Regions from separate parts of the Homo sapiens genome. Here regions 1, 3, 4, 5 and 6 are each reported to be linked to region 2. Evidence: microRNA targets listed by miRTarBase, many of them from high-throughput screens and not tested one by one. Region 2 holds a microRNA gene; each other region holds the end of a gene's coding sequence.
The links. The annotated mature microRNA hsa-miR-4772-3p reads CCUGCAACUUUGCCUGAUCAGA and lies in region 2 at 2,042-2,063, opposite strand. An mRNA with a match to its seed (bases 2 to 7 or 8) in the 3' UTR can be bound and repressed. Matches are read on the target gene's strand: a 7mer-m8 pairs with bases 2 to 8, a 7mer-A1 pairs with bases 2 to 7 and ends in A, and an 8mer does both.

Region 1 (4,106 bases), not on the chromosome of region 2:
CTTAACTCCAACCTTGTCCTGCATCAGAGGATCCACACAGGAGAGAAACCTCATGAATGTAACGAGTGTGGCAAGGCCTTCAGCCACAGTTCCAATCTCATCCTCCATCAGCGCATCCACTCTGGAGAGAAACCTTATGAATGTAATGAGTGCGGGAAGGCCTTCAGCCAGAGCTCGGACCTCACCAAGCATCAGAGAATTCACACGGGGGAGAAACCCTATGAATGTAGTGAATGTGGAAAAGCTTTCAACCGAAACTCATACCTGATTTTGCATCGGAGAATTCACACTCGAGAAAAGCCCTACAAGTGCACTAAGTGTGGCAAGGCCTTCACCCGCAGCTCCACCCTCACTCTGCATCACAGAATCCATGCCAGAGAGAGAGCCTCTGAGTACAGCCCAGCCTCCCTTGATGCATTTGGCGCGTTCCTGAAAAGTTGTGTGTAAAGGAAGAATTTGCCATCAAGCCATTTCCCCCTTTTGTTTCTAAAATTATTTCAGAGATGTGTGCTCCTGGAGGGAAAAAGAAATACAGCCTCAACAGATTAAAAAACAAAAGTCACACTTAAGGATCCTTCTAGTCACATCAGCAGTGTTCTGCCTTTATGTAGTAGTTGGGCATATAATCCTTCCACACAGCCCCTGCAGGGAAAGGCTAATCTTACGGATAATCCACGTGAGATTTCCACACAAGAGAAAAGCACACGCATAGTGAAATGTCAGTCTTTTCAGTAATGAGGATACCTTTAAGGCACTCTTGGACTCTCGGCAACCACAACATAATAGTTGAAAGATCAAGATTGGCTCCACGAAAGTGATACGGAGGTTAGGATGCTACTTGCTGCAAACAAGCCCTACTTTGGCCAACATCCTGCTTATTTCTCAAAAAAGAGGGACAGTGAAAACAAAAACGACATTGGGACATGCTGCTCAAGGTAGTTATATATACGATAAGTTGTATATATGATCACTGGTAGCCTACCAAAGCTGTAGAAATCTAGGACTGTGCTAATCAGTATCAAACCAAAGATTTCTATCTCTTCCCGAAAGAGAGGGTATGTGCACCAGTCTACAGTTCCAAAGGACTGCAACAAATGTAGATGGTTCTGTCCTCATCCCTGAGATCAGTTCTACTGAAATGGCAACAACAACTCCAAATACATCTCTCCCTTCTTGAAATCCCTAAAGCACTATCGCACTCCTAAATGCATTTCTCCACAAGTTAGCACTTGATTGTATACTGTCTTTTAATCCTTCATTGTTTCATGTATGAAGTTTTTAATCACCCCCTAACCCCCAAAAAAGATTCGGTTGTCAAGGGATATATTTCTATCCCTGCCAGCACAGTGCTGGACATAGTGAGTACTGAACACCTAAGAGGCACTCATTCAGACTGACTTCTACAGGACTTCTACGTGTGTGATAAAAGCCTGTGAATCGTGAGTCCCTGAAATATGGTAGCCTGGCCCAGCTTCTAAAGAGGACCTTCGTAGCCACAAGGCATGCTAAACCTCTAGGGTCTGATGCTGTTTTTGTTCCAAATATAAACGAAAGGCACTAGTCAGCCGCCTGCATAGACTTTCTAAACAGTGAGTAAATACCATGGAATGTCAGAAATGACTTTATCATCGTCATCTTGAAGAAAAATATGAACACTGATGAAGGTCATTTTTTTTTTTTGACATCTTTCTGTGGCAAAGCTCTTAGAATTCTTTGCAGTTAGCTGCTGAACAGTATGATGATTTGGGGATTTTCTGAATCATTTGTACTTAGATACTGGAGTTCAGAAGATGTGATTTTTGTTGCTTTTCAGAAAAAGGAACGTGGTAGGGAGTGTTTTTTCCCACGCTTTTCCAGTAACTTTGCAAAAGCATTAATTGTTCACTGGCAATTACTAAATGTATTTTGTTGCTCTGAGAAACTCAGCAGTGTACTGAGATGTGGCTGGCTGTGCCATCGTCATAGTGCACAGTGACTTTTCTGTTTCTTATCACTAAAGACTGAGGTGAGGTTATGAAACTTTCATTGGTCCCATCGTTGTGCGCAGGGTGCAACTGGCTACCTAGAAGCTGATGGCAGGAGACTGTTTCACACACAGGAGATTGTGAGCTGTGTAAGTAGTCATCGCCACTCAAGTAGGACAAGGGTCCTACCCAAGGCTAGGACCGCCCTGCGGAAACAGAAACATAGACTGAGAACAAACCTCAAGACTATCAGTGTGACCTCCCCATAACAAGAGAACCCCATATATAGTTTGAGACTTTCCCTTGAGAAACTTATACTAAAACTATTACTCATCAGTCATTCACTGATCAGCAGCTAAAGTCCATGAGACCAAATGGTTTTATATGGAACCAACGAAGTGGGAGCTAAAACTGCACAGTGGTCATTCTTTGGCCTCTCCTTGGCTTTATGACTTAAACCAACTACAACTTCCCTATAGCTTCTAAGCAGTTTCATCAGCATTACTTGGGAAAACGTGTTGCAAGTCAACCAGTCACTAGGATATTTCTACCCATGCAACGGAAGAAAAACCCATTACTCCAGAAGAGTATATCTAAGTAACTAAAATGGAGGCAGAAAATGTTTTAAGGATTTTCTTCAAAGAATAAGCCACAGCAATGGTTTTGTAGAAAACTCCTGTGCTTTTGAGCAAGGACTTTTGCCCTCTAGAAAGCAACTGAGGCCAGGTGCGGTGGCTCACGCCTGTAATCCCAGCACTTTGGGAGGCCGAGGTGAGCGGATCACCTGAGGTCAGGAGTTTTGAGACCAGCCTGGCCAACATGGTAAAATCCCGTCTCTACTAAAATTATAAAAATTAGCCGGGCATGATGGTGGGCACCTGTAATCCCAGCTACTTGGGAGGCTGAGGCAGGAGAATCACTTGAACCCAGGAGGCAGAGGTTGCAGTGAGCCAAGATTGCACACTGCACTCCAGCCTGGGTGACTAGCAAAACTCCATCTCAAAAAAAAAAAAAAGAAAGAAAGAAACTGAAAAGTGAGGTGTGGAACTCCAGGCAACGACCCAAGCACTTATTTTTTAAGAGGGAAAGGACTTTGGTCATGTTTACATTGGCCTTTGGTTTTTTTTTTTCTTTCAGCCACAACTATATGCTGATATAACTCAGCCATCACTTTTGAGTTTTGTTTTTAAATGAAGGTTAAATGTGACCTGTGCCCTCACATTTAATTCCGTTTCATGGAGACATCTTCCTGACTTTGTTGGATAGCTGCCACTAGGGTTGCTTCGATCTTCAGCCACATGCTGTCCTTGAAGCAGCTATTTGAAGATGTGTTTTCTGAGGAAAACAGGCTACAACTGTTTATTAAAACCACTTGCAGTGCATTCGTTTATCAGATGCTCAGTGCAAAGTGTAATTGGGTCATGGTCAAAAACGCTTGCAACATCTAATTGGCGTTCAAGATAGTCATTCAAAAGTTCTTGGCCCGCTGAAGTCTGTTAACAGTTGAAACATTCTACAGTTAACCATTAGCATGCTAGTTGTCCTAATGGAAATTTTTGAAGAGTTTTTCAATATATACCCTACCCTTGCCAGGAAGAGAAGTAAAATCCTCAGGTTGTGGGGTATTTGTTTCTACTCCAGCCTGGCAGGCAAGGCTAAAACCTGAGATTATCGATCTATGAGACATCTTGATATGTAAAGCACTTAATATTAAAGGCATAAAAGTGAAACTGCTAAATATGTATAGAGAGGTTGACGTGTGATACGTGGGACAGTTCACATAGACATCAGAGAATTTATTCCAGAAAGGAGCCTCCTGAATGTGATGAATACGGCAAAGCCTTTAATCACATCTCAGCCCTTAGCATCGGAAAGCTTATACTGTAAATAAACTTGATGAATATTATATGTGAGGAAAACTTTCATGTATAGCACTCATTGCTTCAGACAGAAAATGAATTCCGTCGGTATGTTCCAATCGTGATGAATTTGAGAAACATTGCAAGAGGGAGCTCAATCTTGGCCGGGCGCCGTGGCTCACGCCTGTAATCGCAGCACTTTGGGAGGCCGAGGCAGGCGGATCACGAGGTCAGTAGTTCGAGACCAGCCTGGCCAACATGGTGAAACCTTGTCTCTACTAAA
Region 2 (4,000 bases):
CAGAAATAAATATAAAATCATGAACATAAGTTACAAATTCTACTCTACAAACAAAAATAGAGAGAACTTGCTTGATTTCAGTTTTTGTGGAAAGACTTGCCTGCCAACTCAGAATAAATCAACCATATAATGAGGCTGTCCCAAAGCTAAAACAATAGTGGGGCTGTGGCAATATTCTGTTCTGAACAAGTAAGGAAATTCTTCCTCTGTTTCAGTGCTGGTTAGACAGCATACAGATGATTGTTTTGAACAGGTGTTAGAAAGCTGTCCAGATCTTCAGAGTTCTGAAATGTTCATAGTGAGAATAATCAAATGGGCCAATGTTTCAACCCTAGAAACAGTTTTGAGAAATATAATCTAAATTATCTTCTTCCTATTTGGAAACACATTAAATTAACTTATTCTCTATTTAGAAACACATTAATCTTTGAATCTAGCCAGTCTCACCATGCTTACCAGTTATCCACAGCACTAGGCCCACAGGATGCCAACAGGTGCCAGTTACAAGAACTAGGAAATGAGAAGTATCAGGTATAGGTACAAAACTTCTTTGGGGTCGGCATGATGGCTCACACCTGTAATCCCAGCACTTTGAGAGGCCGAGGCAGGTGGATCACCTGAGGTCAGGAGTTGGAGACCAGCCTGGCCAACATGGTGAAACCCCATCTCTGCTAAAAATACAAAAATTAGCTGGGTGTGGTGGCGCACACCTGTAATCCCAGCTACTTGGGAGGCTGAGGCATGAGAATAGCTTGAACCTGGGAGGTGGAGGTTGCAGTGAGCCAAGTCTCTAGCTCAGTGCACTGAGCTAGATGCGCTCTAGCCTAGGCGACAAAGAGAGAGATTCCATCTCAAAAAACAAACAAACTTCTTTGTGGTTGGCATGATGGCTCACACCTGTAATCCCAGCACTTTGGAAGGCCAAGGCAGGAGGATTGGTTGAAACCATGAATTTGAAACCAGCCTGAGCAACATAGTGAAACCCCTTCTCTACAAAAAATTTTTAAAATTAGCTGGGTGCAGTGGTATGTGCCTGTAGTCCCAACTACTTGAGATGCTAAGGCTGGAGGATCACTTGGGCCCAGAAGTTCAAGACTGCAGGGAGCTGTGATTACACCACTGTACTCCAACCTAGGTGGCAGAATAAGATCCTATCTCTAAAACAAACAAACAAAAACCTTCCATGCAACATAGGGCTTAAAATCAACCCAGCAGCCATGTCAGAAGTGTGGCAAGAGAATGTGGCATGAGTGAGATTGTCTTAAACCACCAATGGAAATGTTATTCAAGGTGCAAGTCCTACTAACAGGAGGTCACAGCAATGTCGTCAAAACTCATATCTCGGTGCCCTAGGCCAGTACAGGAGAGACTTTCCTACTACCCTTGATTATAATTTTGACTTGTGTCAAGGATTTGCTTAGCTGAAGATCATAAAATGCCGTTACATTACATGTAACTATTATTTATTTAAGATGAAGTTTGTTTATGCCAAGGCTATTTTTTCATTACATTTTTAGAAATTAGAAAAATATATAGAAAAAGTTAGTAGCATAAATAATAAATAACTCACTTTAATTCTGACTTTTTCAGTCATTAAATATTTTAATTAATAATCTCCAAGCATGGTGACCCAGCCAGGCTCCAGCACCTTCCTGCAGCCTTCCCCAGGCCAGGAGGCAAAGGCAGGTCAGCAGTTATCTGCAGAAGGAGCAGCTGGCCCCACCCAGGTCCAGAAGGTGCGTGGCAACCCAATCAAGCCTCAATGCCCTGCCTAAGGCTATCCCTGGCCCAGGGGTAAGATCAAGCCCACACACATCTTTGTAGCCTAGTTTCTCCCCCTGCCCATCCCAAATTGCTGAGCAGCAATCCCAGATAACTAACTTTGCCTCAGGGCCTAGCCTGTTGTCCTGCCCAACTACACATTCTAACAACAGTATTTCTCGGCCAGATGTAGGGCATTTGGGTGCCCTTTTAGTTAATTAAGCAATTCCTTCATGTTGTGGGTGAATGGAAGACACAAGGGTATTGCTCTGTGACTGCCTCTGATCAGGCAAAGTTGCAGGCTATTTGGGAAGACAGTCTGCAATTTTGCCTGATCAGAGGCAATCACAGAGCTCAGCCAGCGACTCAACCTGACCATAGAGTTCAGAAAGTGGTCTCACTGGAACGCAAAGCACAGCAAGCAATTCCACTTGACCTCAGTGCACAGAAAACAGCCAAGCCCACCTAGAGAACTCAACACCAAAGTCTGCTTATCTGGGATTGCTACCAACTAGCCCACCTGGAATCCCAGGCTAGACTACATAGTGAAGGTCTGCTACCACCAAAGATCACCTACAAAGACCAAAAGAGGTGGCTGTTTCCTCAACTGCATAGGCACCAATGCAAGGAACAATGATTATGAAAAATCAAGGAAATATGTCACCATCAAAAGAAACTAAGAAAGCTATCATAATGAAATAGGAAGAAGTAAAGATCTAAGAAATAACTGACAAAACTTCAGAATAATCCTCTTAAAGTAGTTTAGGAAACTACAAGAAAATATGTATAAAAATAAAATAAATTTTAAAAACAATTTTCAAAACAAAATGAAAAGTTTAATAATAGAGAAATAGAAAAAAAAGTTTTAAATAGAAATCCTTCTCCCTGAAGTGTGGGTATTTGAAAAATAAAGAAATCCTACAGATAAAGAATATAATACCTGAACTATAATATCAACAGCAGATTTGATTAAGCAGAAGAAAGCATCCGTGATGTCAGAGATGACATTTGAAATTATCTAGTCAGAGGAGCAAAAAGAAAAAAGAATGAAAAGGCTTATGGAAATTATGGGACACCTTCAAGATTCACATATTAGGAATTTTGGAAGATGGAAGAAAAAAGAAGTCAGAAAGCATATTTAAGGGAATATCAGCTGAATATTTCCTAAATCTAGGGAAAGATGACATTCATGCATAGGAAACTCAGAAGTTGCCAATCAAATTCAACCCAAAAGGGGTTTACCAAGATACATCATAATCAAATTGTCAAAAATTCAAAGACAAAGAAAGAATATTGAAAGTAGCAAGAGATGAGAAACATATCATGTTCAAGAAAGTCCCAATATTGCTATCAGTGGATTTCTCAGCAGAAACGATATAGGCCAGGAGAGAGTGGGATGATATATTCAGTGTTGAAGGAAAAAAACCCAAACAAACTGCCAACCAAGCAAAGCTGTCCTTCAGAAATGAGAGGGAAATTAAACTTTCCCAGACAAACAAAAGCTAAGGGAGTTCATCACCACTTGGTCTACTTTTAAGAATTGCTAAAAGGAATTATTTAAACTGAAATGAATGCCTGCTAATTAATAACAAAAAATATGAAAGTAAAAAATTCAATGGTAATAGTTAATACATAGTCATATTCATAATTCATTAATAATGTAAGGGTGGTATATAAAGCAATTTATCATTACTATGAAGGTTAATAGACAAAACTAATAAAAACAATCCTAGCTGTAATTAATCATTAAGAAACAGAAACTACAACAAATGTAAAATTTGACATCAAACCCATAAAAGGTAGCGGGGAGGAAATGAAAGTGTACTTGTTGTATATAAAGTTAAGTTGTTATTAGCTTAACTAGCCTGTTATGAAGTGTTTTATGGAAGCCTCATAGTAACCACAAAACAAAAACGTGTAGTAGTGGCACAAAATATGAATATAAAAGATTCAAAGCATAGCACCAAAGAAAGCCATCAAGACACAAAGGAAGATACTAACAGAGAAATAAGTAACAAAAAACCTACAAAACACACAGAAAATAAGTTACAAAATGGCAACAGCCTGTGCTTATCTACCAATAATCACCTTGAATGTAAATGGATTAATCAAACCATTTACAATATGTCTCCAATCAAAAGACATTTAAAAATTCAGCTATATGCTGCCTTCAAGAGATTTACTAATAAGGACACATATAGACTAGAAGGGAAAAAACGGACAAAGATATTCCATACAA
Region 3 (4,106 bases), not on the chromosome of region 2:
GAGAAACAATTTCTCTGTCTTTTGTACTCTAAGAATGGGTGAAAATGACATTTTTAAGCTTTGTATCTTTCAGAGTATCTCCTTCTCTCTGTGCACATGGAGTTTTGTGTCTCTTTTGCCTTACCCCTAGTTCTCTAGACCTTTAAGACTCTTGTTTAACTGTGACGGTATTTGTGTTTGAATAAGAGAGATGCAACTGAAATACACAATTAGCATTGTCTTCACTTATTTCCATTTTCCCTCCTTTTCTCCCAAGGTGTCTTTTGCAGCTCACATTGCAGGTGGATTTGCTGGAATGTCCATTGGCTACACGGTGTTTAGCTGCTTTGATAAAGCACTGCTGAAAGATCCAAGGTTTTGGATAGCAATTGCTGCATATTTAGCTTGTGTCTTATTTGCTGTGTTTTTCAACATTTTCCTATCTCCAGCAAACTGACCTGCCCCTATTGTAAGTCAATTAATAAAAAGAGCCATCTGGAGGAAATAAAAAAAAAAGGAAGACTCTATGAAGAAACAGAGAAGTCTCAGAAAAGGCTAACAATTTTATATAGAGGACAAAACAGCATTAAACTCATCAGTTGCAAAGATTGCCTATAAAAGGACCTTAGGATTTAAGGAAGGGGCTTCTTAATGTAGAAAGGGAAGAAGAAGAGAGAAAAGAAGGGTAGTAAAAACTAGAGATTGGGGCCAGGCGCAGTGGCTCACGCCTGTAATCCCAGCACTTTGGGAGGCTGAGGCGGGTGAAATCACCTGAGGTCATGAGTTCAAGACCAGCCTGACCAATATGGTGAAACCCTGTCTCTACTAAAGAAAATACAAAAATTAGCCGGGCGTGGTGGCGTGTGCCTGTAGTCCCAGCTACTTGCGAGGCTGAGGCAGGAGAATTGCTTGAACCTGGGAGGCGAAGGTTGCAGTGAGCCGAGATTGCGCCACTGCACTCCAGCCTGGGTGACAGAGCGACACTCGGTCTCAAAAAACAAAACAAAACAAAACAAAATTAGAGATTGGGTCTTTCCCAGGCATATGGTATTCTATAAAACAGACTTACTCTCCTTGGAGGATATATTTTGGAGAATGCTTCATAAAATCTATGAATACTGTACAATGCTGATAATAAAAACTTTTTATACCTGTGTCAGACTCCTGATAATCACTTTAAAATAGATCACTGTTTGAGGAGATAGATCACTACTGTTTGAGGTGTTTTACACACTTTATTGATAATATTATCAACAACCCGGAAAGGTAGTTATTACTCTGCATCTTAGAGTAATCTTAAAGAATCCCTTAAAGGAACCCTTAAAGAATTAAGTACTTGTCTGAGGGGAGCAGAATTTAAACATAGATAATGACTTGGAAACCTGTAGTCTCCCCTATAGGTCCAACAATGCTGTGTTCCCCAAACACTGAAGGGTATCATAGGAGTACAGGAACAAACATCTATGCGGGGTACACCATGAATGGTGGAAATATCTCATAGAAGAAGACTGAGGATTTTCTGGACTGCTAGTTTAAGATTCTGATACCGTGTCTAAGATCCCAAGGAACCGGGCACTGGCTTTCTGGTGCACACTATATACCTAGACTTCAGATTCTCATCTGTGATCAGACTGTCATCCTTCATGTGGGTCATGGCTCTCCTAGGAGTGGGTAGGATTTATTTACAGAAGGTAAAATGTCATACCTGAAAGCTGAGAAGCATGTGTCATTTTCCTGTATAGAATTCAGACTGTGGTTTATTATGTTTTTGGAAATGGTAGTTTTGGGTCATCTGAATATAGGAAATATAATTTTTTCTTTTATCATCAATGTATTTATTAAACACCCATCTAAACATGTCACTGTATCTGGAAGGGGCATATACACTTAGTTAGATATAGTGAGAAAAGTTAATACTTTAGTATTTTGAGAAAAACTGATCAGAAATTTGTTTAAAAAGTTAAATTTAAGTATAAACATGGGAATATGAGTGTTTTTTTTTTTGTTTTGTTTTTTTTTGAGATGGAGTCTCGCTCTGTTTCCCAGGCTGGAGTGCAGTGGGCTGATCTTGGCTCACTGCAACCTCTGCCTCCTGGGTTCAAGCAATTCTCCTACCTCAGCCTCCAGAGTAGCTGGGATTACAGGCATGCGCCACCACATCTGGCTAATTATTATTTTTTTTTTTTTGAGACCGAGTCTTGCTCTGTCGCCCAGGCTGGAGTGCAGTGGCCGGATCTTGGTTCACTGAAACCTCCGCCTCCTGGGTTCAAGTGATTCTCCTATCTCAGCTTCCTGAGTAGCTGGGATTACAGGTGGCCGCCACCAAACCTGACTAATTTATTTATTTATTTATTTATTTATTTATTTATTTATTTATTTATTTATTTTTAGTAGAGACGGGGTTTCACCATGCTGGCCAGGCTGGTCTCGAACTCCCGACCTCAGGCCCTCAGGCGATCTGCCCGCCTTGGCCTCCCAAAGTGCTGGGATTACAGGTGTGAGCCACTGTGCCCGGTCCCTAATTTTTTTTTTTTTTTGAGATGGAGTTTCGCTCTTGTCATCTAGGCTAGAGTGCGATGGTACGATCTCGGCTCACTGCCACCTCCACCCACTGGGTTCAAGTGATTCTCCTGCCTCAGCCTCCTGAGTAGCTGGGATTACAGGCACCTGCCACCACGCCTGGCTAATTTTTGTATTTTTAGTAGAGACGGGGTTTCACCATGTTGGCCAGGCTGGTCTTGAACTCCTGACCTTAGGTGATCCGCCCACCTCGGCCTCCCAAAGTGCTGGGATTACAGGTGTGAACCACTGCACTCGGCTAATTTTTGTATTTTTTAGTAGAGACGGTGTTTCACCATGTTGGCCAGGCTGGTCTCAAACCCCTGACCTCAAGTGATCCACCCACCTCAGCCTCCCAAAGTGCTGGGATTACAGGTGTGAGCCACCATGCCTGGCCTTATGAGTGTGTTCTTGGTTAAACAAAGATTCAAACAAGAAGTTAAAAGATAAAATCTCAGCCAGGTGCAGTGGCTCATGCCTATAATCTCAGCACTTTGGGAGGCCAATGTGGGAGGACTGCTTGAGCCCAGGAGTTTGAGAACAGCCTGGGTAACATTCAAGAACTCTACAAAAACATAAAAAATAACCAGGTGTGGTGGTGCTTGCCTGTAGTTCTAGCTACTCCAGAGGCTGAGGTGGGAGGATCACTGGAACCCAGGAGTTCGAGGTTACAGTGAGCTATGATCATGCCACTGCCCTCCAGCCTGGGTGACAGAGTGAGACCCTGTCTTAAAAAAAAAAAAAATCTCCTTTTGCCTTCTCACTTCAAACCTGCTGTTTTTCCCTAGTGCTGACCATCATCAGTGGTCACAACAGTATGGTCTGTATCCTTGCAGACATTTTTCTATGTAGGATGAGCAGAAAGGAAAATGGATTTAAGTTAATGTCCAACTCATCCACTGTATTGAACTTCACTGAATCTGCTCTACACCCTCAAAGGGACAAATCTGAAGAACAAATTAGAGGTGTCCATGGTATAACTCCTCCTAAGCATCATTTGCTTCTCAGATTGATCTCAACTAGGAAAAGTTTTTGTTAATCGATTTTAGCTAAATATATATGTGTGTGTGTGTGTGTGTGTGTGTGTGTGTGTGTGTGTGTGTATATATATATTTTTTTTTTTCTTGAGACAGGGTCTTGCTGTGTCGCCCAGGCTGGAGTGCAGTGGCGCCATCTCGGCTCACTGCAACCTCTGCCTCCTGGGTTCAAGCAATTCTCCTGCCTCAGCCTCCCGGGTAGCTGGGATTATAGGCATGTGCCACCATGCCTGGCTAATTTTTGGTATTTTTAATAGAGACTGGGTTTCACCACATTGGCCAGGCTGGTCTTGAACTCCTGACTTCAGGTGATCCGCCTGTCTCAGCCTCCTCCCAAAGTGCTAGGATTATAGACATGAGCCCAGCCTCTAATTAGATATTTTTATGAAATGTAGGTTTTAACAGGATAAATGTGATACATGTATTGTTCTATAACTTGCTTTACAACATGACCTAGGGACCTTTCTCTATTAGTTCATAGAAATCTTTATTCTCTGAATTGCTGAATGATATAGATGTACCATAGATAAC
Region 4 (4,106 bases), not on the chromosome of region 2:
CCAGCCTCGACAACAGAGTGAGACTCTGTCTCAAAAAAAAAAAAAAAAAGGCTGGGCACAGTGGCTCACACCTGTAATCCCAGCACTTTGGGACGCCGAGGTGGGTGGATCACCTGAGTTCACGAGTTTGCGACCAGCCTGGCCAACATGGTGAAACCCCGTGTCTACAAAAAATTAGCCGGGCGTGGTGGCGGGTGCCTGTAATCCCAGCTACTCAGGAGGCTGAGGCAGGAGAATTACTTGAACCTAGGAGGCAGAGGTTGCAGTGAGCCGAGATTGCACCATTGCACTCCAGTCTGGGCAATAAGAGCAAAACTCCATTTCAAAAACAAACAAAAAAAAGACTCAACCCAGAATTCTTTTTTTTTTTTTTTTTGAGATGGAGTCTCGCTCTGTTGCCCAGGCTGGAGTGCAGTGGTGTGATCTCAGCTCACTGCAAGCTCCGCCTCCCGTCAACCCAGAATTCTATATCCAGTGCAAACACACTTAAAGAACGAAGGCAAAATACAGACATCCTCAAATGAAACAAACCTAAGATATATATTTCTTGCCAGCAGACTTGCCTGAAAAGAAATGCCAAAGGAAACTCTTGGTAGAAGGGAAATGATACCAGAGGGAAAGCGGGAACTTTGGGAATTAAATGATAGTAATAGAGATTGCACAATTATTTTATCTTTAAAATATGGCTGGAGGCGGCTGGGCGCGGTGGCTCACGTCTGTAATCCCAGCACTTTGGGAGGCTGAGGTGGGCGGATCCCAAGGGCAGGAGATGGAGACCATCCTGGCTAACATGTTGAAACCCCATCTCTACTAAAAATACAAAAAAATTAGCTGGGCGTGGTGGTGGGCTCCTGTAATCCCAGCTACTTGGGAGACTGAGGCAGGAGAATGGCATGAACCTGGGAGGCAGAGCTTGCAGTGAGCCGAGATCACGCCACTGCACTCCAGCCTGGGCGACAGAGCAAGACTCTGTCTCAAAAAAAAAAAAAAAAAAAGAAAAAAAATGTGGCTGGAGGCCAGGTGCAGTGTAATCCTAGCACTTTGGGAGGCTGAGGTGGACAGACCACTTGAGCTCAGGAGTTTGAGACCAACATGGCGAAATACTGTCTCTACTAAAGATACAAAAAATGACCGGGTGCGGTGGCTCACGCCAGTACTTTGGGAGGCTGAGGCGGTTGGGATCACAAGGTCAGGAGTTTGAGACCAGCCTGGACAGCATGGTGAAACCCCATCTCTACTAAAAATACAAAAAACTAGCCGGGCATGCTGGTGGGTGCCTGTAGTACCAGCTACTCCGGAGGCTGAGGCAGGAGAATTGCTTGAACCTGGCAGGCGGAGGTTGCAGTGAGCCGAGATCACACCACTGCACTCCAGCCTGGGCAACAGAGTGAGATTCGGGAAAAAAAAAAAAAAAGCAAAAGCAAACAAACAAAACTCAATAGTAAGAAAACAAACAGGCCAGGCACGGTGGCTCATGCCTGTAGTCCCAACACTTTGGAAGGCTGAGGCAGGTGGATCACTTGAGGTCAGGAGTTGAAGACCAGTGTGGCCAACATGGTGAAACCCCCTCTCCACTAAATATACAAAAATCAGCCAGTGTGGTGGCACATGCCTGTAATCCCAGCTACACAGGAGGCTGAGGGAGTTGAATCGCTTGAACCTGGGCGGCGGAAGTTGCAGTGAGCTGAAATCATGCCACTGCACCCCAGCCTGGGCAACAGAGCATGACTCTCTCAAAAAGAAAGAAAAGAGAAGAAAAAAGAAAAGAGAAGAAAAAAGAAAACAACCCAATATTTTAAAGTGTGCAAAATATATAAACAGACATTTCATCAAAGATGCTATATAGATGGCAACTAAGCACTTGGGGAAAAAATGCTTAACATCATCAGACATTAAGGAAACGCAAGGAAAACCACTATTAGATATGTCTACATACCTATTAGAATGGCTAAAATAAACTTTTTAAAAAACTAAGCTGGGGCTGGGCGTGGTGGCTCACCCCTGTAATCCCAGCACTTTGGGAGGCTGAGGCGGGTGGATCACTTGAGCTCAGGAGTTGGAGACCAGCCTGGCCACCCAACAAGGTGAAACCCCATCTCTACTAAAAACATAAAAATTAGCTGGGTGTGGTGGTGGGTGCCTGTCAGCCCAGCTACTCAGGAGGCTGAGGCACGAGAATCACTTGAACCCAGGAGGTAGAGGTTGCTGTGAGCCAAGATCACGCCATTGCACTCCAGCCTGGGCAACAAGAGCAAAATTCTGTCTCAAAAACAAATAAACAAGAAAAGGTTTTAAAAATTGATAAACCACTAGCAAGAAAGAGAGAGAGGACACATCAGGCTTGAGAGAAGTGACATCATCATAGACTGTGCAGACATTAAAAGGCATAGGCATATTAGGAACTAGATATTACTAAGGCAGTAAACCAGATCACTAGCAAATTCGTTGAAAAACACAATTCATCAACTATTGGTTGATAATACTGATACGCATCTTCTGTGTGCCAGGGCCTTGAGGCCCTGCTCCAGGCAGAAACTCGGCAGTGGTTGGGAAGGCATCAGATGTCAGATGGCACAAGAGGACTCAGAGCTGAGGGATAATGGGAAAGAACACAGAGGAATCCAGCCATTTCCACAGCGTCCAGCTCTGCTGTGGGAGGCTGGGAACAGCCCAGCACTACCACCCTGGACTGGGAGGACAAGACCACAAAATGCAGCTTCCCTGAACCTCCTCTTGGTGATGGGGTTGATGTGGTCGAGGTAGAGGTGAGTATGTCTGGAGCCTCAAGCAACTGCCCATACCTGCTGGGACCAGGCCGAGGTGCCCAGGGAGTAAGAGGCAGCATCCTGGAAGAGCACAGATGAAAGAGGCCCTGAGAAGTGTTGGTTGGCCAGGTGCTGTGGCTCACACCTGTAATCCCAACACTTTGGGAGGCTGAGGCGGGAGGATCACTTGAGCCCAAGAGTTCAAGACCAGCCTGGGCAACATAGTGAGACTCATCTCTACAAAAAATAAATAATAGAAAGAAAAATGTGAGTTGGCCAGGCATGGTGGCTCATGCCTGTAGTCCCAGCTACTCAGGAGGCTGAGGTGGGAGGATCACTTAAGGCCAGGAGTTCAAGACAAGCTTGGGCAACACAGTGAGACCCTGTCTACAAAAAATAATAATTAGCCAGACGTGGCGATGCATGCCCAGGCTCCCAGCTACTTGGGAGGCTGAGGCAGGAGGATCGCTTGAGCCTGGGAGGTCAAAACTGCAGTGAGCCGGACTGCAACACTGCACTCCAGCCTGGGTGACAGTGTGAGACCCTGTCTCAAAAAAGAAAAAAGAAAAGAAAACTGTGCTCTTAAGAGCCAGTTCTCCACTCCTCTACCTCAGGAGCCACCCCAGAACCCATCCACTTTGAGGACACGAGATCCCAGCCCACTCAGCCCTGGGAGTCCAAAGACATTTTAAACAGAGCCTCTCTTCACATTTATTAATTCCTGGGAGGAATGAGGGAGGCTTCTCCAGCCCCCCAGAGACCCCGGCCTTGTGCTGCAACAGGAGGGGAGGGAGCCAGTCCAGAATCCCCGGCACTTCTGAGGACACCAACAGCACCCTGGGCCCGCGGCTGCATCAGCTTTCTAGACAACGGGAGAAAAGAGAAATGGTGGAGGAGGGGAAATCCTATGCCCTCCTCCTCGCGGAAATCAAGGCCGACCTCCCTGACGCCCCCCCGGAAGGAAGCGCGTGGTCGGCTGCCAGCCGAGACCCCCATCTGCGCCTCCAGCTGCAGGGCCTTTGCTGGGCGGTTCCTCGCCCGCAATTCCCCCACGAGCCCTGGGGAGACCCAGCGCTAACCAGGGGTGCCCAAGGGAGGAGCCGGGAGAGGCCCTCCTGGAGGTGGGCACAGCCCAGGCAAACATCAGCAGACGGAACCAGCACCCGGGACCCAGGGAAACGTCACCTGCCACCAGGAGCTCCACAGGGTCGCTGAGCTCCGATTCGAAGGTGTGGGGCACCCAGGAGCGGTAGCGGCACCTGTAGTTGCCGGCGTGCTGGGGCCCCACGAAGATCAGCTCGAGGTTCGCCGCGGCCCCGGGGGTGCGGACCGTCTTCACGG
Region 5 (4,106 bases), not on the chromosome of region 2:
ACACAAATGAAAACTCACACCCACCCACCCCCAAGTGCATGTCTCCATCACTTAAAAAGTAAGTTCCATTTGAAAATATCCTTTCTTTTTTTTTTCTTCCTATTTTTGTTTGTTTATACAAATATCTGATTTGCAAGAAAAAGTGCATGGGAGGGGTTTTAGTGGTTTAATGAATTTTTAATTAAGAAAGGGTAGTTTGGTAGTCTACTTAAAAATGTTTCTGGGAAATTCACTAGAAACATTAACCAATAGGATTTTGGTGAGCTTAGCTTCTGTATTCCTACTGCCGCCCAGAAAAGGGGCAGGGCTCTGCAGCCGCCAGGACAGACGAGCACCCCATGCCTATACCTCCCTCCCCGAGCTAAGTCCCAGGGCATCTGGGCCTTGCCTGGAGACTGGGCTAGCTCTGTAGGCTCGGAGAGCCTGGGGAGGGTGCCAACCCCACCTCTAGTATTTTGGGAGATAGGGAAAGTGAACCGACTTCCCCTTCCCATACCCCTCAGGGTGGTTCCCTACCAGCCAGGCTTACTACTTCTAGAAGAAAGCAGAGTGCCAGGGAGTGAGATTGCATCCCTGGGCTTAGAAGTGACGGAGAGAAGACTTGTTTAGTATTTTGCCATCAGCACAAGGAAAACCAGGAGAGAGTCTGCCTCCAGGACTCTGAGCCTTCTGCCTCGTATGTTCAGAAGGTGGATAGGTCTTCCCACTCCAGCATGGCTTGAACTCTTAGGGGTCTGCAGTGCTCCATCTCCATTGGTGGCCCCAGCTCAGTAACTATACCTGGTACATTTCCTGTGTGCAATCAGTACCTTGAAGGCAGAACATTCTGAATAAAGTTGGAAAAAGAACAGCTTTGCTTTGCAAAGATTGATGACAGACTGGTTCCTCAGAGGCCTAGGCTACCCGTCACCCCTTTTTCCAGAGCGAGGGCCTGGAATGAAGGCAGTTTATCCTCTGTCCCTGGAGCCTGGGGTTTGCTTTGGCTCCTTGAGGTGGAAGAGACTAAGAGGGCAGCTGCCCAGAGCAGCTGTGTGTACCTGGCTCCTCTCAGGCTTCCTGATCCCTTCCGTTGCACTGCGCCTTATCCCTCAGCCAGCCAGACAGCCTCCCTGCTCCTGACCAGCAGATACGTTTCGGAGTGGTTGGTGTGGTTTTTGTGATGAGGGCAGCACGTGGTGGCCAAGGTGGCAAGCTGAGTCTCACAGGCTCACTCCCTCGTTGGTTCCCTGTGGGAATGGTAGGCCAGGCCCAGTAAGCCATGCCCCAACACGTCCTCTCCTCCGGAGGAAGGGCCAGCTGCCAGCTGAGTCAGCAGCTAGTCCATAGCACAGCCTTATAACTGTAAAGCCAGGCATTGCCCATGAGCAGAGCTGGAACCAGAGCTTCAGTCAGTAAGAGGGAGGATTACCTTCAGGAGAAGGCAAGGAAGAAAACTGGCTGCTATCTTTATAGTTCCACTGCCCTAACCAAGTGTCCACATTCTAAATGTGTAGTGTCCATCCCTTATGTAATAGTGGTTTCCCGCCCAAAGTGAGACTTTCCTTTTAATTGGAGAAGGGTATAGAGGTAGTCCAGGTGGGAACGCCAGAAGTGCTGATTGCCCAGCCATTGGGACCACCTGTTCTTGCCCCACTACCCTCTAGTGGGAGGCCAAAGTAAAGGCTGGCTGGTGGGTGTCTGTGGATTGAGGATGTGGCAGGGACTGGTCCTCCCACCTCCCTCTGGCCAAAGATGGGCTTTGCCCGCTGTGTGCCTGTCACCACCCACCAGCAGTCATGCCCTGGGCTTCCCAAATGGAGAGGTAGCAGGCAACGTTTTTAAAAAGAAAGAAAACAGGAAACTGTATTGTGTCGGGGGAGGCGGGAGGGAGATGAGGAAACGGTTTGGATTTTGTGTGTGGGAGGGTATTTTTTGGGGGTAGTTGTCTGTAACTTTCCTAAGTGCTTTTTTTCCTTTTCTTTTTTAAAGTAAGTTGCAGGCTTTGGCTTGGAAAACCCCAGGGGGATGGGGGGCAGAAACCTGAGGCTGCTGCCCCTTTATCTGCCTTCACGGTACTGTCCCCTTCCCCCAGCTCCTCCCTGACCCCATGGGCCAGGCCTCAGACCTTCCAGCTAACCGCTTCCCATGAGCCACTACTCTGATGTCAGCCTATAACCAAAGGAGCTGGGGGGTCCAGGCCTGGTGACCAACCTTTCTCAGCCCACTCAATCAGGGTGCTCCCCACCTGCAGGCAGGAGGCAACACCCTATCTGCTACCATCAGCCCCTTCCAGAGCCCATCTGCCCCGCCCAGCCCTGCCCTGCCCAGCCATACCCTGCTCTGCCCCATCTGGGGGTGCCCTGCTCAGGGATGGGCTGGCAGGGCTGTACCCAGCCTCCCTGGTAAGCAGAGACTCAAGAAACCTCTGGGGTCCTGTTTTCTGGTCGTGTGATCCCAGGGGTGCACATGGGCCCCTTGGGTGTCTGAACAGAAGGGCATGGGAGGGAGGGCTGCACCCCTGCAGTCTTACTCTGCTGGTGTAGCGGGCAGCTGCCCACTCCCACCCCACCCTGCACCGCGGGCTCCTGAGTCGGCAGATTAAGCATTTTATAAATTGTATTTTAAATACATGTTTTAAACTTGTCAGATCTTTGTCCTCATTTCAGTCCCTGCCCTCTACCTCTTGCTGTGGCCGCTTATTTAACCCTGGGGGATTTCCCTCTGCCCAGTCCCAGGGAAAGACTGTCTTTGGTAAAACACGAGGCCGGGTGGTATGTGGGTTGAGGGGAAAGGACCCACCCCTCTTGGGGCTCCCAGAGAATGAGAGCCCTGGGTCCTGGGGCTCTGTCGGGGGAGCATGCAGAGGCCACCTCCTGCTCTTCCACAGGGCCTGTCTTAGAGCCAGTGGAGAGAGAGAATGGCTGCTTTTGTGGGGCTCCCAGTCCAGAGGGGGATGTGCTCACCTGAGGAGAGGCCTAGCCCTGTGCTTTGAGAAGGCACAGAAGGTCAAGACTGCACGCAGGGGCACCTGTAGCAGAAATCCCAACCCCGCGCAGGGCTTTGAGGTGGAACCCTGCACTCTGAGAGCCCAGTGGTGGCTGGGTGACAACTTGAGGGCCTTTCTTGGCAAGAGGCACAGAGGCTGAAGTTATTGGTGTTTATTAGCTCACCAGGCCACAAAAGCAAATCCCAGCAGCAGCTCCTGCCTGGTGGCCCATCTGTCTACAGGCCTTGAGCAGCTGCCTAGAGTCAGGCCTCCAGAGGGTCAGTGGGTTCGAGCTGGCACAGAGCTGAGCCACTTTCTGCTGTCAGAGTTGTGTTCCCTGGGGAGAGGAGTAGGGCAGAAGGGTGGGAGACATGTGGCCCTTTCCCTATCTGCCAGTATATGAGCCATCTGTGCGTGCCCAAGTGAGGAGAGAGAGGAGGCCTCCCCTCAGAAATGGTGGAACCAGCAGTTGTGCTTAGGGGCCTGATTCCAAGTCCAGAGCTCCCTTCCCCAGCGGCCTGGAGGGGGACTGCTGCAGGAGACGTTCCCCTCTGCCCAGGTGCACAGTCTGCTAGTCCTAATATGGAACCATAGGGAACTCAGAGTACTCAGTTAGGTGCCACTGAGTCCTGGACACAGGAAAGCAGAAGCACTCTGGCTTCAGTGGAACAATCTGCTGGGTACACAGGCCCTCAACAAAGGTTTGTCTTCTTCGCCTTTTACCCTTTCTCCTCCCTGGAGCAAGCAGCCTCTCAGGTATGATCTCTTAGAAAGATGGATTCCCAGGCATTAGGCCAGGGGCCTCTTAAGGAAGAATCTGGAAGGGCCTGGGCTGGGACCCTTTCTCTGGGCACCCACCTGTTTCCTTGAGATCCTGACTGGAAGAAGGGGCTGCGGATGTCAGGATCCAGGCCAGGGGGTGTGCACTGGTCTAGTGCATAGTGGTTGCTCGGCTGCCTACGGACCATCTTCTTGTCCAGCTGTGGGCAGAGCAGGATGCAGGGCACCTGGGCATAGGGGCTCTGCAGGTTGGGAGCTGGTGAAGAAGGAGGCAGAAGGAGGAATGCTTCACAGCATGCCCAGCCTTGGGAAGCAGGCAGATTCAAGTGAAATCCTGGCGTTGCTACATAATGACCTGAGT
Region 6 (4,106 bases), not on the chromosome of region 2:
ACTACCCCCTAAGGCAGCAAGAGAGCAGGAAGATAAGCAAAATAGAGATGTTTTTGACAACTTGGCACTGAGAGACTATCCTAAGGGAATAATCTGAAATACATAAAAACATTTTATTCACAAAATTGGTCATCACAGCATTATTTACAATACTGAAAATCTGGAAATAGCCTAAATTTCTAACAATTGAAAGAAGGTTAAGTAAATTATAAGACTACACAATAAAATATATTACCAGCAATATATCTTTGTGAAAATCTATAATAACCACACATAATACTTAGTAAAAAAGAACATAAATTACATGATAAAGAATATGACCAGAACAATGCAAAAAATTCACACCCCCAAAAAAGACAAGATATTATATGGCAATTTTGTGGTAAAATATTCATGTATTTGTGCTGCATTTCTAATTTTTCCGTAACTGACACATCAGTTTTATAATTAGGAAAAAAATACCTTTTTAAAGTAAAGCGAACACAAGATTCTTTAGCAATGTTCATTCCATCCCACAATAGAGTCTAGAGAGTCACAAAAACCTCAGCCTCCTTCGGGAGGGGGGGAGCTTGGTAGTGAAAAATGGTCATGAATGAATGGGTGAAGAGAGGGATGGGACAACCTAGTAGGAGGGAGGTAGGGATAGGCAAGGGAAAGGTGGGGACCAGTAGTCATACTGGTCAGCCAAGGAAAGGGGCATTGTGGAGTCAGGGAAGACTCTGACTGCTCAACAGAGGTCTGTCTAGACCCAGTAGTAGGCACTGACGGTGTTATCAAAGGACAGGATCAAAGAGAGATTTTAGGAAGACACGTGGATTATTTTAGGGACAGGGGAGGAAAGAGGAGGGGTGGGTAAACTACTTGGAAAGAAAGGGAGAAGGACTGAGAAGATGGCAATGGGAGTGGGGAGGAAGGGGCTGATTGCCTTTGTGACCTCACTACCAAACATACTTTGCTCACCTCCAGATAAGTCTTTGTGGGGCAAATGCAGGATAAAGAAACAGCTCATAAGAGGCACTTGCCAACATCCAACAAATTCAGTTCAAAACCACAGAAAATCTAGGAGTCTCCAAAGAAAATCACAGTCCTGCTGTGTTGCCGAGGCTGGAATACAATGGCACGATCTTCATTCACTGAAACCTCCGTCTCCTGGTTCAAGCGATTCTTGTGCCTTGGCCTCCCAAGAAGCTGGGATTACAGGCATGCACCACCACACCCGGCTAACTTTTGTATTTTTAGTAGAGACGGGGTTTCACCATGTTGGCCAGGCTGGTCTTGAACTCCTAACCTCAAGTGATCCGCCTGCCTGGGCCTCCCAAAGTGCTGGGATTACAGGTGTGAGCCACCGCATCCGACTTCTAACGCACTGGGTTTTAACAAGCCCCTCAAGTAGTTCTGATGCTCCCTCATGTTTGTGAGCCACTGAATGAGGGCCATGCAAAATGTCTAGAATCACTAGTTCTGCTGTCAGCTAAACCACATGAAAGAACCCCTGCTCATGTGAAAGAGAGATTTCTACAAATAAAGTGACGGGAGGACCACTAATAAGTTATGTCCAGCTTAGTGGGGTTGGGGAAAGGTTATATGAAGCAACAAAGATACAGTTTCTCTAAGCCAAGTAAAGGTAAAGAACTGTGGAGCAGGCAATAAAGCCAAATGCACTGAACTATGTCATAAGGAATTTACAGGCTGTATTGTAAAAGCCACAGTGAACATGATGACAGCAACAACGAGGATGAAGAACAGCAAAGAAAAAGCTGAGGGAAACCATCGACCAAAGCAAGCGGAGGCTCAAAAGAGAGACGAGCTTCAGGATCAGGAAATGAACAGGGCCCTTCAGTCACGGAGAAGTCGTTGTTGCCAGAACAGTCAGTCACTTAACTGCTTAGAAGATCACCGTGTTACCATATAACCTCTATTGTAGGCTAATTAATTTTTAAAATCTGTCTAAAATTTACTGATTTTAATATAATATCTTGTCATTTTTGGCAACAATACACTGAAGTAACAATGTAGTTTGCTGTATTTTGTTTCACAAATATTTACCTGGAAACACTGGAGACTTTGTAAAGAGAAAATTACTAAAAATTACTCCTTCACTACAGGACAGTAGATATTTAATATTTATTTAGAAAGCTATTGACACTTCTGATGACTACTGATAACTGAGAAGATTCAACATGTTATAAATATGAGTTGTAAATATTCCATCCCTTTTGAGATTATATACACTAAGCTTTTTACTACCACTGGCCTTTCTGGATACTTTCATATTTAGAGAATATAGAACTACATTCTGGGAGATTGACAATGACCTAATATTACACTAATGAAAAGTCTTCACAGTCCTCAAAATAATTTAGAATTTAATGTTTTCTTTAATAAGCAATTAAAATGGAATATTTTCTGCCTCCTGAATAAATACATGTCTGTAACCAACCATCCCTAAAGAAGGATACTAATATATTTTGAGTGATTCAATCCACCCATGGATATAGTCACATCTTTAAATGTTTTCCAGTGTGAACAACAGTCTTTTAATAGATGGCCATTGAGTTCAAGGGTCATATTATTTGCTAACAAATTATTATTTGGGCCAGAAAGTATCTGAAAAAAGTTTAACCAAATTTCCTACACATCTCATATCTCTAGTTTATTAAGCATTATTTATTATTTGGTGTAAAAATTCTACATTAATTACTTCATACATATTTTATCTTGAGATTATGAAATCCCATGGTCTTAGAAACAAAAGATAGACTTTAAGACACTGGCTTCTGCTATTTTTTTTTAACTTTAGATTTGAAAAAGAAACATGGATTACATGTTAACATAATATTTTGAATATATAGGGCTCATAAGATATATTATTAAATTATAAACAAAATAATCAGGAACTTAGTGTGGTGCCTAGTTTGATATATGATTACTTTTTGAAATGCACTAAATTCCACAAATAATGAAAGTATTCTTTGTGTATAATGTTATGTTTGGTTATTATGTATGGTCTTCGTATCCAAAGGTATGACATAACTTGAGTTTGTTTGCTTTGTATTTATTCAGTAAATAAGCCGTAACTGTTTTAAAAAGAGGGAAATTAAAAAAAAAACTGGTCCAATTACCAATTATAAATTTTAATAAAGACTAAACGAAAAGGTTTGGCTGTTACATATTCTCAGGCCAAATTGTTGATGCATGTTTGGATTAACTAGCCCTCAGGCTGCTTCCAATATTATGGGTAATCACAAAACGACCAGCTCTAACTCCTCCTCTCACCAGCTGGAAGGGAGCACATCACATTTGCCATCCATGGTTGGCAAAACTCAAGGCATCAACAACTGGAAAAGATCTCCACCTTGGGAATCATTATACATATTGTGATCCTGCAATGGGTCAGAATCCACAAAATACAGTTCCCCTGCATGGATGTCAGAAAAGTTAGCTAGAAATTCATCAGGATTGAAGCCAACCCACACAGTATACCTATAGTCTATGGTGCGTATGGAATAGCCCATGATCTTTATATCTTTTAAACTCGGCTTGTCAGAATTCCACTGAGGGATGTCTGAAGGCCGGGGATACTGGCTATAGGCAATCAGTTCACGGGGATTACCAGGGAGGTACGGATCCTCTTCCAAGTCACGGAATCGAAAATGCTTCAGAAGGTTCTTGCCTTCTCTGCACAGCTCAACGTGAAATGAAGGAACGGGGCAGCGAGGTGGAACCTGCAGTCCTGCAAGTCCAGCCAGCGTGGGAAAAAGAGACACAAGTTCCACAAGGTCCATGGATTGCCTGCCTGAAACAGGAAGCGACAGAGCAGAATGGGTTACATTATAAAAGCCTGCCATGGCCAGGCAGGAGCAGTAAAGGAACCTGTCTGGGCTCCATATGTTTTCTTTTTTTAATTTACAACATTTATCTTTAGCAACAGACGTTTAGAAACACCACCTCGGCACCTCACCCTGCATTAATTACTCATCCAATCAAATAGCAGGATGCAAAATTAGGGCCCCACGAGGCTGTTGGCGCTTTTTAAAACAACCTGAATTTTGGAACCACCGATTTAATAACTGACTCAGACAAGGATCATCAATTAAGGCTACAAC

Region 1: the mRNA of ZKSCAN1 is a reported target of hsa-miR-4772-3p. Seed matches in the 3' UTR shown: 7mer-m8 at 2,904-2,910.
Region 3: miRTarBase lists RHBDL2 as a target of hsa-miR-4772-3p. Seed matches in the 3' UTR shown: 7mer-m8 at 908-914.
Region 4: miRTarBase lists A1BG as a target of hsa-miR-4772-3p. Seed matches in the 3' UTR shown: 7mer-m8 at 3,539-3,545 and 7mer-m8 at 3,270-3,276.
Region 5: the mRNA of SPATA21 is a reported target of hsa-miR-4772-3p. The part of its 3' UTR that is shown has no 7-base or 8-base seed match.
Region 6: the mRNA of IDS is a reported target of hsa-miR-4772-3p. The part of its 3' UTR that is shown has no 7-base or 8-base seed match.

The regions. Positions count from the first base shown.
Region 1 is chr7:100,033,751-100,037,856 of GRCh38, forward strand. ZKSCAN1 (zinc finger with KRAB and SCAN domains 1) reads left to right here. Exons shown (of 6, transcript NM_003439.4): 6 at 1-4,106. The coding sequence ends at 447. Among named protein-coding and RNA genes, the nearest start is that of ZSCAN21, 14 kb to the right of the region's middle. RefSeq lists enhancers at 3,580-4,081, 4,082-4,106.
Region 2 is chr2:102,430,399-102,434,398 of GRCh38, reverse strand. MIR4772 (microRNA 4772) reads right to left here and starts at 2,110; the gene lies at 2,033-2,110. The region is part of intron 3 of IL18RAP (interleukin 18 receptor accessory protein); the gene reads right to left.
Region 3 is chr1:38,882,834-38,886,939 of GRCh38, reverse strand. RHBDL2 (rhomboid like 2) reads left to right here. Exons shown (of 8, transcript NM_017821.5): 8 at 257-1,133. The coding sequence ends at 436. Among named protein-coding and RNA genes, the nearest start is that of GJA9-MYCBP, 3.3 kb to the right of the region's middle.
Region 4 is chr19:58,343,403-58,347,508 of GRCh38, forward strand. It overlaps A1BG (alpha-1-B glycoprotein), which reads right to left. Exons shown (of 8, transcript NM_130786.4): 7 at 3,951-4,106; 8 at 1,781-3,627. The coding sequence ends at 3,620. Among named protein-coding and RNA genes, the nearest start is that of A1BG-AS1, 6.5 kb to the right of the region's middle. RefSeq lists enhancers at 3,392-3,892, 3,560-3,839, 3,893-4,106 and a silencer at 4,090-4,106.
Region 5 is chr1:16,395,521-16,399,626 of GRCh38, forward strand. It overlaps SPATA21 (spermatogenesis associated 21), which reads right to left. Exons shown (of 13, transcript NM_198546.1): 12 at 3,824-4,001; 13 at 3,123-3,302. The coding sequence ends at 3,245. SZRD1 (SUZ RNA binding domain containing 1) reads left to right here. Exons shown (of 4, transcript NM_001114600.3): 4 at 1-2,625. Among named protein-coding and RNA genes, the nearest start is that of SZRD1, 30 kb to the left of the region's middle.
Region 6 is chrX:149,479,423-149,483,528 of GRCh38, forward strand. It overlaps IDS (iduronate 2-sulfatase), which reads right to left. Exons shown (of 9, transcript NM_000202.8): 9 at 1-3,796. The coding sequence ends at 3,324. Among named protein-coding and RNA genes, the nearest start is that of IDS, 24 kb to the right of the region's middle.